Regions from separate parts of the Homo sapiens genome. Here region 1 is linked to region 2. Evidence: fine-mapped expression QTL. Tissue or cell type: whole blood. Region 2 holds a variant in brackets; the other region holds the start of a gene. All regions are shown on one strand. Distances are between the middles of the regions. Region 1 holds the start of CEP72 (centrosomal protein 72). Region 2 overlaps TPPP (tubulin polymerization promoting protein).

What was found.
Region 1: CEP72 starts here. The variant in region 2 is fine-mapped to the expression of CEP72 in whole blood (INTERVAL, PIP 0.91).

Annotation. Positions count from the first base shown.
Region 1 is chr5:609,903-615,275 of GRCh38, reverse strand. CEP72 (centrosomal protein 72) reads right to left here and starts at 2,936. Exons shown (of 12, transcript NM_018140.4): 1 at 2,833-2,936. The coding sequence starts at 2,914. CEP72-DT (CEP72 divergent transcript) reads left to right here and starts at 3,066. Exons shown (of 3, transcript NR_103444.1): 1 at 3,066-3,124; 2 at 3,523-3,829. RefSeq lists enhancers at 2,153-3,082, 3,083-4,013.
Region 2 is chr5:657,950-663,322 of GRCh38, reverse strand. TPPP (tubulin polymerization promoting protein) reads left to right here. Exons shown (of 4, transcript NM_007030.3): 4 at 1-3,461. It also overlaps a transcript of CEP72 not described here. Among named protein-coding and RNA genes, the nearest start is that of TPPP, 33 kb to the left of the region's middle. RefSeq lists an enhancer at 741-910. The variant ATATG/G (reference allele first, on the strand shown) is at 3,115.

The DNA.
Region 1 (5,373 bases), 48 kb after region 2:
TAATCCCAGCTACTCGGGAAGCTGAAGCAGAGGAATCATGTGAACCCGGGAGGCAGAGGTTGCAGTGACCCAAGATCGTGCCACTGCACTCCAGCCTGGGGGACAAGAAGGAAACTCTGTCTCAAAAAAAAAAAAAAAAAAGAGGAAGACTACATATACTAAAAGGGTCAGTCCACTAAGAAGGTATAAAAATCCTAGCTATGTAATTCAACAAACAGAGCTTCAAAACATACAAAGTGAAAAAAAAAACAGACAAATCCACAATTACAGTTAAGGGTTCCAGACCCCTCTCTCAGTCATTAATAGAGTCACTAGACAGAAAATCAGCAAGGATACAGAAGAACTGAACAATATCACCAACCAACAGGATCTAATTGATATTTATGTATTTACATAACACTCCACTCAACAACAGAATACACACACACTCAAGTGCACCTGGAACATTCAACAACATAGACCAGATGCTGGATCATAAAACAAACCCTGACAAATTTAAAAGAATTAAAATCATACAGATTATGTTCTGGCCATAATGGAATCACACAGAAAAATAACAGGAAAATATCCACACATGGAACGTTAAAAACATACTCCTTAAAAATCCACAGGTCAGGCCGGGCGCGGTGGATCATGCCTGTAATCCCAGCACTTTGGGAGGCCGAGGTGGGCGGATCATGAGGTCAGGAGTTCCAGCTACTCGGGAGGCTGAGGCAGGAGAATGGCATGAACCCAGGAGGCAGAGCTTTCAATGAGCCAAGATTGCGTCACTGCACTCCAGCCTGGGTGACAGAGCGAGACTCCACCTCAAAAAAAAAAAAAAAAAAAAAATTCACAGGTCAAACAGGAAGTATCGAGGGAAATTCTTAAAATACGCTGAACTGGATGAAAATTAAAATACAACATAACAAAATTTGTGGATACAGCTAAAGCAGTGCTTACAGGGAAACTTGTGGCACTGTTTATAATAGAAAATAGGAAAGTCTCAAATCAATAATCTACAGTTTTGCCTCAAGGATTTAGAAAAGTATAAAATAAATGCAAAGCAAGCAGAAAGAAGGAAATAAAAAAAAGCAGAAATCAATGAAATTTGAAACTAGAAAAACACTGGAGAAAAATCAAACCCAAAGTCGGTTCTTTGAAACTATCAATAACATTCACAAGCCTCTAGCAAGACTAAAAAAGAAAGAATACACAGATTATCAACATCAGGAACAGAAAAGGGATATCCCTGTAAACCTTGTAGCACTAATCAGGGAAGAAGGGAGGACTCGGCATGTCCCGAGGTCAGCTGCCCTCTCACCTGCTTCCTCAGAGCCCTGTGGTGCCTACTGCCTCAGGATCACTTGGATTTTGTCACGAGGTTACAGTTCCCCTTAACCACTCTACAGATAATAACCTGGACATTATAAACCGTTAAGTTTTCCATTTGAGATATTCTTTCAGGACCTGGGGACTGATGCCAGCTGGTCTAAAGGGCCCCGCAAGCGGATTCACCAAAGAATGCAGTTTCCACACCCTGATAATTCCATGGCCCTTACCTCCACCAACTGACAACACCAATCTTCCAGCTCCTCACAGTCCTGTTCCTCTAAAACCCCCAGCTCAGGCTGGGTGTAGGTGGCTCATGCCTGTAATCCCAGCACTTTGGGAGGCCAAGGCAGGTGGATCACCTGAGATCAGGAGTTCAAGACCAGCCTGGCCAACATGGTGAAACCCCGTCTCTACTAAAAATATAAAAAATTAGCCGGGCATGGTGGCGCGTGCTTGTAATCCCAGCTACTCAGGAGGCTGAGTGAATCACTTGAACCTGGGAGGTGGAGGTTGCAGTGAGCTGAGATTGTGCCACTGCACTCCAACCTGGACGACAGAGTGAGACTCCGTCTAAAAAAAAAAAACCGCTCAGATCTCCTTGGGGAGATGGATTGAGGCCTCCTTCCACCTCCCTGCTGGGCCCCTGCCAGCCTTAAACTCTTTCTCTGCTGCAAACCCCACTGTCTCAGTGTATTGGCCTGTGGCCCCCACAGCACCTGACTGAACCTGTTGGTCCAGTAACACCTGCAGACCACACACAGACATTAACAGGCTAACAACAGAACACCAGAAACAACTCAACACACACACTCCACAAGTTAGCTCAAATAAGCCAATGCCACAAAACCCCACACAGCCAAGACTCGCGGTGAACTAATATGAACGGTTCTCTAACAACCAGAGATACAGAATTTGTCATTTAAAAGCTTCAAAAACAGAAATTGACATGTCCATATGGTTTCACTGGAAAATTCCAGGAAACATTCAAACAATGAGCACACACTCTACAGAACCTCTTCTAAATATAAGAGAAGGCAACACTTCTCAGCAGTTTATGAGCTCGGCTTCACCTTGACGCCAAAACCAGACAAAAATAAGCCAAAAAGAAGGAAACCGGCCACCAACATCCTCAAGAAGGCCGAGCGCAACAATCACCACAGAGTGGGCCCAGGAGAACCAGGGAGGTGATCCCCAGCGGGAGGGCGGGCTGCGCTCCTGGACAGCAAGGCCGGCTCCCTCTTCTCAGCGGATGTAACCCCCAGTCACGGAACCAGTGACCCGATAGACAGGCAGGGGCCGGGACGCCGGGACCCGAACGCGGGCAGGGGCCGCACCTGGGCACGGGGGGTGGGTCGCTCACCTGGACACGCGCGCCCCGCTCGCCCGCGACCGTTCCGGACGCCCGCGGCGCCTGCGTAGACGGGTCCCGCCTGCCCACGGTCCGCCGCCGCCCCGGGAAGCTCGGCACCCACCCCCCCGCCACCTCACGCTTGCACCCCCGCCCGCCCTCCGGCGCACCCAGGTCGCGGTGAGGCCCTAAGCCGCTCTTCGCCCGAACCGCCTCCTCGCTCAGCACCAGCCGAGGGCCAGCCCGCGCCATGTTTCAAACGGAGCCCTCGGACGGCGCCTGCGCGGCGGGCGGGGCGAGGCTACGAGAGGGGCGGGACCTGCGTCGGCAGAACCGAGAGCCTGGCGGGACGGGGCGGGGCCTGCGCGGCGGGGCGAGGGGCGTGGCTGGGGGAGGGGGCGGGACTGCGTGGGCGGAACCAAGAGCCTGGCGGGGGGTTCTCCTGAATGGCGGTTCTCCCAGGTACTGGCCACGCGACCCCAGCCCCCGCCCCAGATAGCTCCCTGTCAAGGCTTCCCTGGGCGCGGCCGCCTTCTAGGCCCCGGCCCTTGACACACGCGGTGTCCTCCCGGGGAAACCCCGAGTAGGCGCGGTGGAATCGCGGCTGGTGGTGGGCATGGGGACCCTGCCCCATCCACACTCCGCTCCCACCCTGAACCCAGCGCCCCCGGGGACCCCCGACTCACCTAGACTCCCCACCCAACCCGACCCCCCCGCGGGGACCCCTCCAGACACCCCAGCACCCGCCCGGAGCCTTGTCTGCTGCACCTCCCGTCCAGCCCCGGGCCTCCCAGAGGTGGGCGGGAGCTGAGCTTCTCCCCAGCCAGTCACTCCCCACGGCCGGTCCTTCTCCACCCCAGAACCTCCAGAGATGTCACAGGCCCAGCACTGTGGCTCGTGGCTGACCGCGCCCTGGAGGGTCTCGCTGTGTTTATCCTTGTGAGGTCCTTCTACAGAGCTTTCAAGGAAGACAGAGTTCAGCCTGTTTATTGGGAAGACTTTAATCCTGCTCAAGACATCTACTGTGTCACCGTACCACTGTGGCCCAGCGCCTGGTGGAGTGAATCCAGACCCCCAGGGGTGTCCCCTCCCCGCCTTTCTCCTGGTGTCTAGGGGCACCCAGAAACCCTCACCCCAGATTAGACCAGCTCGTTGGCAACATCCCTGGTATGTCACAGCCTGGGGGGTGATAGACAAGGCAGGGTAGTGGTGGGGGGTACGTATGGTGGTAGTAGACGAGGGTATACACAGACAGAGGGTGTACATGGGGAATGTGTGCAGGGGCTGTGTGCAGGGAGTGTGTGTGGATGGTGTAGGGGAGTGTGTAGGGGAGTGTGTAGGGGGTGTGTGCAGAGGTTGTACACGGGGTGTGCAGGAGGTGTACTCAGAATGTGTTCAGGGAGTGTGTGCAGAAGGTGTACATGGGGTGTATGCAGGAGGAGTGTGCAGAGGGTGTACATGTAGGGGGTGTGTGCAGACAGTATACAGAAGGGGTGTGTGCAGAGGATGCACACAGGGTCTCTGCAGGGAGTATGTGCAGTGCTGTACATAAGGAGTATGCAGGGGGTATATACAGGGTGTATGTGCAAGGGGTGTGTGCAACAGTGTGTGCAGGAGGTGTGTGCAGGGTCTATGTGTGGGGGTGTGTGCAACAGTGTGTGCAGGAGGTGTGTGCAGGAGGTGTGTGCAGGAGCTATGTGTGGGGGTGTGTGCAACAGTATGTGCAGAGGTGTGTGTAGGGGCTATGTGTGGGGGTGTGTGCAACAGTGTGTGCAGGAGGTGTGTGCAGGAGGTGTGTGCAACAGTGTGCAGGGGGTGTACACAAGGTGTGTGCAGGAGGTGTGTGTAGATGTGTGTGCAGGAGGTATACACAGGGTTTGTGCAGAGGATGTGTGTGGGAGGTGTGTGCAGGGGATCTGTGCAGGGAGTGTACACAGGCTGTGTGCAGAGGCTATGTGCAGGGGGTGTGTGCAACAGTGTGCAGGGAGTGTACACAAGGTGTGTGCAGGAGGTGTGTGCAGAGGTGTGTGCAGGAGGTATACATGGTGTGTGAAGGTATGTGTAGAGGTGTGTGCAGGGGGTATACACAGGGTTTGTGCAGAGGATGTGTGAGGGAGTTGTGTGCAGGGGATCTGTGCAGGGAGTGTACACAGGCTGTGTGCAGGGGGTATGTGCAACAGTGTGCAGGGGGGGTGTGTGCAGAGGTGTGTGCAGGGGGTGTACACAGAGGGTGGTGGCAGGCGGTGGATGCAAGGCTGCATCTGTTCAGCCCAAGACGTTCCATTGGTCCAGTGGTGTTAGAGCACATTTGGTCAGGTTGCCTTCATGGGATATTTGACAAGCTGCAAACCCGAGGGCATGCTGGTGCCCGAGGGCGCCTCCGTGCTGACCTCAGCATGTGCAGCAAGAGCCAGGGCACAGGGGCGGCCTGGCCCATTTCAGGCAGGTGCTCTGTGGGAGGGTGGCTGTCTCCACTGACAACCCAGGGAGGTCAGCAAGGAGGAGCCCTGAGGTGGACTCGAAAGCTGTGGGAGCTGATGGCCCTCCTGGTCTCTGCCACAGCCCTTAGGCTGTGGGACACACAGCGTCACATTTGATCACTGTTCATGGGGCCTGCCGAACACTCAGCATTCCTGAGTGCAGATCGTCACGTAACTTTCCAAAAATTGCAAACCCAGATATGGCTCCATGACCCCTCCTGCAAGACTGTG
Region 2 (5,373 bases):
GCCCAGCCCTGTGCCCCCGCTGAACCTGGCTGGACCGCGTGTGAAAGGCAGAACTAACGTGCGGAAACATTTGAAAACAACTCTGAATGTGCGGTTCGGAATCACCCGATCACAGACGAGCGGTCACCGGAATCGCCCGGTCACAGACGAGCAGTCATCGGACTCACCCGATCACAGACGAGCGGTCACCGGAATCGCCCGATCACAGACGAGCGGCCACCGGAATCGCCCAATCACAGACAAGCAGTCATCGGAATCACCCGATCACAGACGAGCAGTCATCGGACTCACCCGATCACAGACGAGCGGTCACCAGACTCGCCCGATCACAGACGAGCAGTCATCGGAATCACCCGATCACAGACGAGCAGTCATCGGACTCACCCGATCACAGACGAGCGGTCACCAGAATCGCCCGATCACAGACGAGCAGTCATCGGAATCACCCGATCACAGACGAGTGGCCACCGGAATCACCCGATAACAGCCCATCACAACTCCAAAGCCCTTGTGTTGAAAAGGCCGAGGACGAGTGGTCACCAAACAGGGTGGCTCCCCAGGTCCCGAAGCCTGAGACCCGGAAGGCCCTGGCACCCTTACACCCTCGGACTCCTGCCCTCCTCGGCCTCCCTGGCCCCAGCGCGGCTCCACCCTGGGCTGCGTCTCCTGGTCACAGGCTGCGTTTCTCCTTTCTGTCCGTGGGCAGCCCAGTCCCCACAGTCACGGCCAAGCCACGCAGAACGAACATGACTCCAGAGGACCTCGCCCTGGAGCTGAGCCTGGCGCCGGGTCAGGACGGAGGGAAGGGCGGGTTGGGGTCCGCGGGTCCTCACACCGCACGGCAGGCACAGAGGCTCGCCAGGCCCTGATCCGGTCTGTGGGGACGAGGGACACTGAGGAGAGGTGCTGGGCACCAGGACGCTGCCTCCTGGTCCCTGGTTGGCCTCAGACAAGCACGGCCTCGAGAAAAGAGCCAAGCGCATCGGGAGCACACCAGAAACCGGCCCTGAGCACGAGAAGAGCCTCCGCCCGGCCCGGGCACCACCCGACCTCGCAGGGAGCAGGCCCTGTCACCGACGGGTCACCTCGCCCACACGGCCAGCACCGACTCACCACAGCCCTTCCCAGACCTGGCTGGAGTGGCCGGAGCGGCGGGGCTCATGGCTCCCATCTTGGCCCCTGGAGGTGAGCTCATTCACAGAAGTGGTCCCTTCACTCTGAGAGAGAAAATCGTGGCGTGCATCCCAAACCCTAGGCCACGCCTGTGGGTTTCGTGAATGAGATCGAGGCTGCTGTGGCACCCTGCCCGTCCTGGCCTGGAGCACCCTGGGATCCTGGAGGGAGAGGCCCCACGCCCCCACTCTCCCTCCACACTTCCAGGGTTGGTGCCCACGAGTTAGAGGCACGCCCTCCCCCAGCGGCCCTCAGGCTTTTCTCAGACATGCGGGAGCCAGGAGAGCACCCTTCTCCACTCAGCTCCAAAGCGAATCTTTGAAAACACCCACTCGGCTCCCATCTCTGTCACCTAGCCAGGAGGGGTAGCAAAAATAAAGTCACGAGGACATAGTGGTCACCACTGTCAGTTACAACTTGTCTGTGGAATCCGTAATTGCATCTGTGTGCCGCCTCCGAACACAGAACATTGTTTGGACGGCAGCCCCACTGCACATAACAGACCCGTGCATCTTCCTCAGTCAGTTTCTGAATATTGTGAATTCAGGCAGGTGTGTGTTCTCTTCTGCATGTTTTTATGCACTGCCAATTAGCTTCTACTAACCACGGTTCAACAGAAAATAAATGTGTATTTGTGAATAACAAACTGCACAACCTGCAAACCAGGAGAGAGGGACAGGTTCTGTCAGGGGTGACACCAGGACACAGGGACAGGTTCTGTCGGGGGTGACACCAGGACACAGGGACAGGTTCTGTCATGGGTGACACGAGGACACAGGGACAGGTTCTATCATGGGTGACACCAGGAGAGAGGGACAGGTTCTGTTGGGGGTGACAAGAGGAGACAGGGACAGGTTCTGTCGGGGGTGACACCAGGAGAGAGGGACAGGTTCTGTCAGGGGTGACACCAGGAGAGAGGGACAGGTTCTGTTGGGGGTGACACCAGGACACAGGAATAGGTTCTGTCGGGAGGACAGTGCTGATCGTGTCTCAGCATCAGGAAAGGAGAAAGGCAGAGGGAGAGCGCTGAGAAGACTGTTCACGCCAGAGTGCTTATTTATTTTTAATTTACTGCTATAGGATAAGCAACCAGGTAGTGTTCCTAACAATTAGCGTTACCAAAATTAAAGTTCAAATTATATGTTTAAAATATTGTAGAAGATATATATTTATACTGGACTACTTTTACACCTTCTAATATCCTGTCCAAGTTTGGGCGCAGATGGTGGAGTTGGGCTGGCATCATGTCCTGTGGCCGCCCCACTTGCCTGTTGGTGCCACTCCATCCCGGGCCCCAGGGATGCCAGCTCAGGGCTGACCACAGCAGCCCTGCGTGGGCATCACCTCCTACCCCAGCCCCCATCCTGGGCTGCTGCGGCCGCCTGCTTTTGTGAATGGTGTTTTGTTGGCACAGGGCCTGTCCTGTGTTTTCACACAGGCCTGTGGCTCCTGCTGTACAAGTGGAGTGGGGAGGAGTTGAGATGGAGATGCCTTGGCCCTGGACACTTACCTGTCCCTCTACTGGCCCAGCTCATCTCCTCCTGTGGGCAATCACGCGTGCACTGGCCACCCTCCCACCCCACAGCACACACCACGAGGGGATGGCACAGGGGGAAGATGAGGCTGGACCGTGATGTTATCAATAGGCTAGAACGTCCTTCAAACACTGAACCTGCATCTTTCCTCCTCTTACTACTGAACACTTTGTGAGCTCTGGTGGTCCAGGGTGCAGCGTTTGTCCCTGGGCATGTGATGGGGAGTCCTGGGCACATCGAGATGCTTTACTTCTTTCTTTCGACCTCTTAAAAAACTAAACCAAGCCAAACCACAAAGGAAATCTGCACAACTTAAGAGAAACTTGAAAGGGATCGTGTAACTACTAGTTTGTACTAAGTTTTTTTCAAGAAAGGGAAACAAATTTATATATATATATATATATAT[ATATG/G]TGCAATATATTTTTACACTGTGTGATTAACATTAGGGAGTACTGAGTGCATCACTTTATCAGTGTGACGGGTGATGTCCACGTCATGGCTGTTCTGACTCTGAAAGCCACTTCTGCTGATGTCTAAACCGCACTCACCGCGGACGTCCGCGGGGTGGGGTGGCCCTGCTGTTCCTCCTGCAGGTGAGAGGTGTGGTGTTGCCTGTTGGACTTGCTGTTGAGCCTGGCTTGCAAACCTGTAGTGAAACAGCTCGTGTCTGTGTGCACACTGCTCCTGTGTCTGCTGTCGTTAACATTGTGTGTCAAGTTGGTAAAGTGACAAATAAAGGTGTTAAAACATGGATTTCTCTGTTCCTCAGAGCACACGTGTCTGTAACAGGTGATAACAGGGGATAGGTACTGGAGGGGCCCCAGGTGGGGAGTGTGCTGAGTGCCTCCACTGGGCTGAAGCTCACAGGGCCAAGGCCCTTGTGTCGCCTTTTCCCGAGGGAGTCTCTCGCTTCCTCATCTAGACAGGAGGACCGTGAAGGAGGAGCAGGCGGACCAGCCATCTGTCAGGTGTGAGTCCTGCTCTAGCACTGGTGTAGCCCTGGGTGGGGTCTAGATTCAAGGGGAATGGACATGAACACTGTGAACACCACCAGAGCCCCCAAAACAGGACAATGTCATCACAGGCTGCTATAAAAAAAATGCCAACCTGAGATACTAGCCCAGCGAAACAGTTTTCCAAAATGAGGATACAATAAAGGCATTTTTGGACAATGAAAAGAGAATTTGCCACCAGCAGACATTTAAAGAAATTCTAAATGCAGAAAGCAAAGGTGATCTCAAATGGCATGTCTGGTTTGTGAAGAAAGTGGAGCAAAGAGAATAAATAGGTCAATAACTCCAAATTAACAGTGGCTATATCAATACTTTGTGAGATTAAAATGTTTCATAAAAATACTTGGGAACCCCCACAGGTGAGCAGAACAGGAGCATGGAGAGGGACGCGCGCCTCGCGCTCCAGGAACCAACCCCAGAGGTGGGTGAGAGCATGGACTAAACGCACACATGCCATAAGCATGGGACAGAAGCAGAGTACAGTCTCCAAACGAGCAGAGGGACATGCGGGATGACAGGAGATCATCCAAAAGTGGCAAAAGTGAAGAGGGAAAAAACCATGAATAGAACAAACAGCACAAAATGAGATGGCAGATTTAAACTAATGAGATGGTGGATCAATCAGCTTCGCTGAGGCCGGGCGCGGTGGCTCACACCTGTAGTCCCAGCACTTTGGGAGGCCGAGGCGGGCAGATCACAAGGTCAGGAGATTGAGACCATCCTGGCTAACACAGTGAAACCCTGTCTCTGCTAAAAATACAAAAAATTAGCCAGGCGTGGTGGCGGGCGCCTGTAGTCCCAGCTACTCGGGAGGCTGAGGCAGGAGAATGGCGTGAACCCGGGAGGCGGAGCTTGCAGTGAGCCGAGATCACGCCACTGCACTCCAGCCTGGGCAATAGAGCGAGACTCCATCTCAAAAAAAAAAAAAAAAAAAAAAAAAAAAAAAAAAAAAAAAATCAGCTTTGCTGATAAAACAAGAGAAAGAAACACAGAACAGGGAAATTGATAAAATAATATTTTAACCCATATTTATTTGTAATTTCAGCATGGCTAATGATAGATCAGATCAGAAATTGAAAAGAAAATGGAGGCAAAGGGTGTTTCTTTGAAAGGACTGAAGAGAAAGTTCAAATAACGAATATGAAGAATGGCCAAGAATGGGCTGAGTCCCCGGGAGGCAGATGCTGAGGTGGCCTTTGTATCACAAGAGGCTCACTGGTGAGGAATGCCCCTGAACAGCAGCAAGGGGAGGAGGCCGGGAGGCCTCAGGGAGGCTCTGGAGATGACCTGCTAGGGAGCTCCCTGTGGTTCGCATTAGGCCCAGGCCCTGCCTGCTTGGACACTGGCTGCAGCTGCCTGGATGAGTGTGTCCTCAGCTCCAGAGCCCAGGCACAGCCTGACAGCATGGTGGCTGGAGATGGTCTCTACCCCTGTACTCCCTGCCCCTGGATGGCAAGGTCTCGCTTGAAGGGACACAACTGTCCCTACATCTCTGCCACAGGGACACACACAACTTCAAATGTTGAAGCCATTCAAATTATGTGTGTTATACCCCCCAAAATGGAAAATTAAGACAATATGGACCAATTCTTAGAGACACATAACTTACAAAAACTAACTCGAAAAGAAATGGAAAGCCTGCTCAGCCCTGT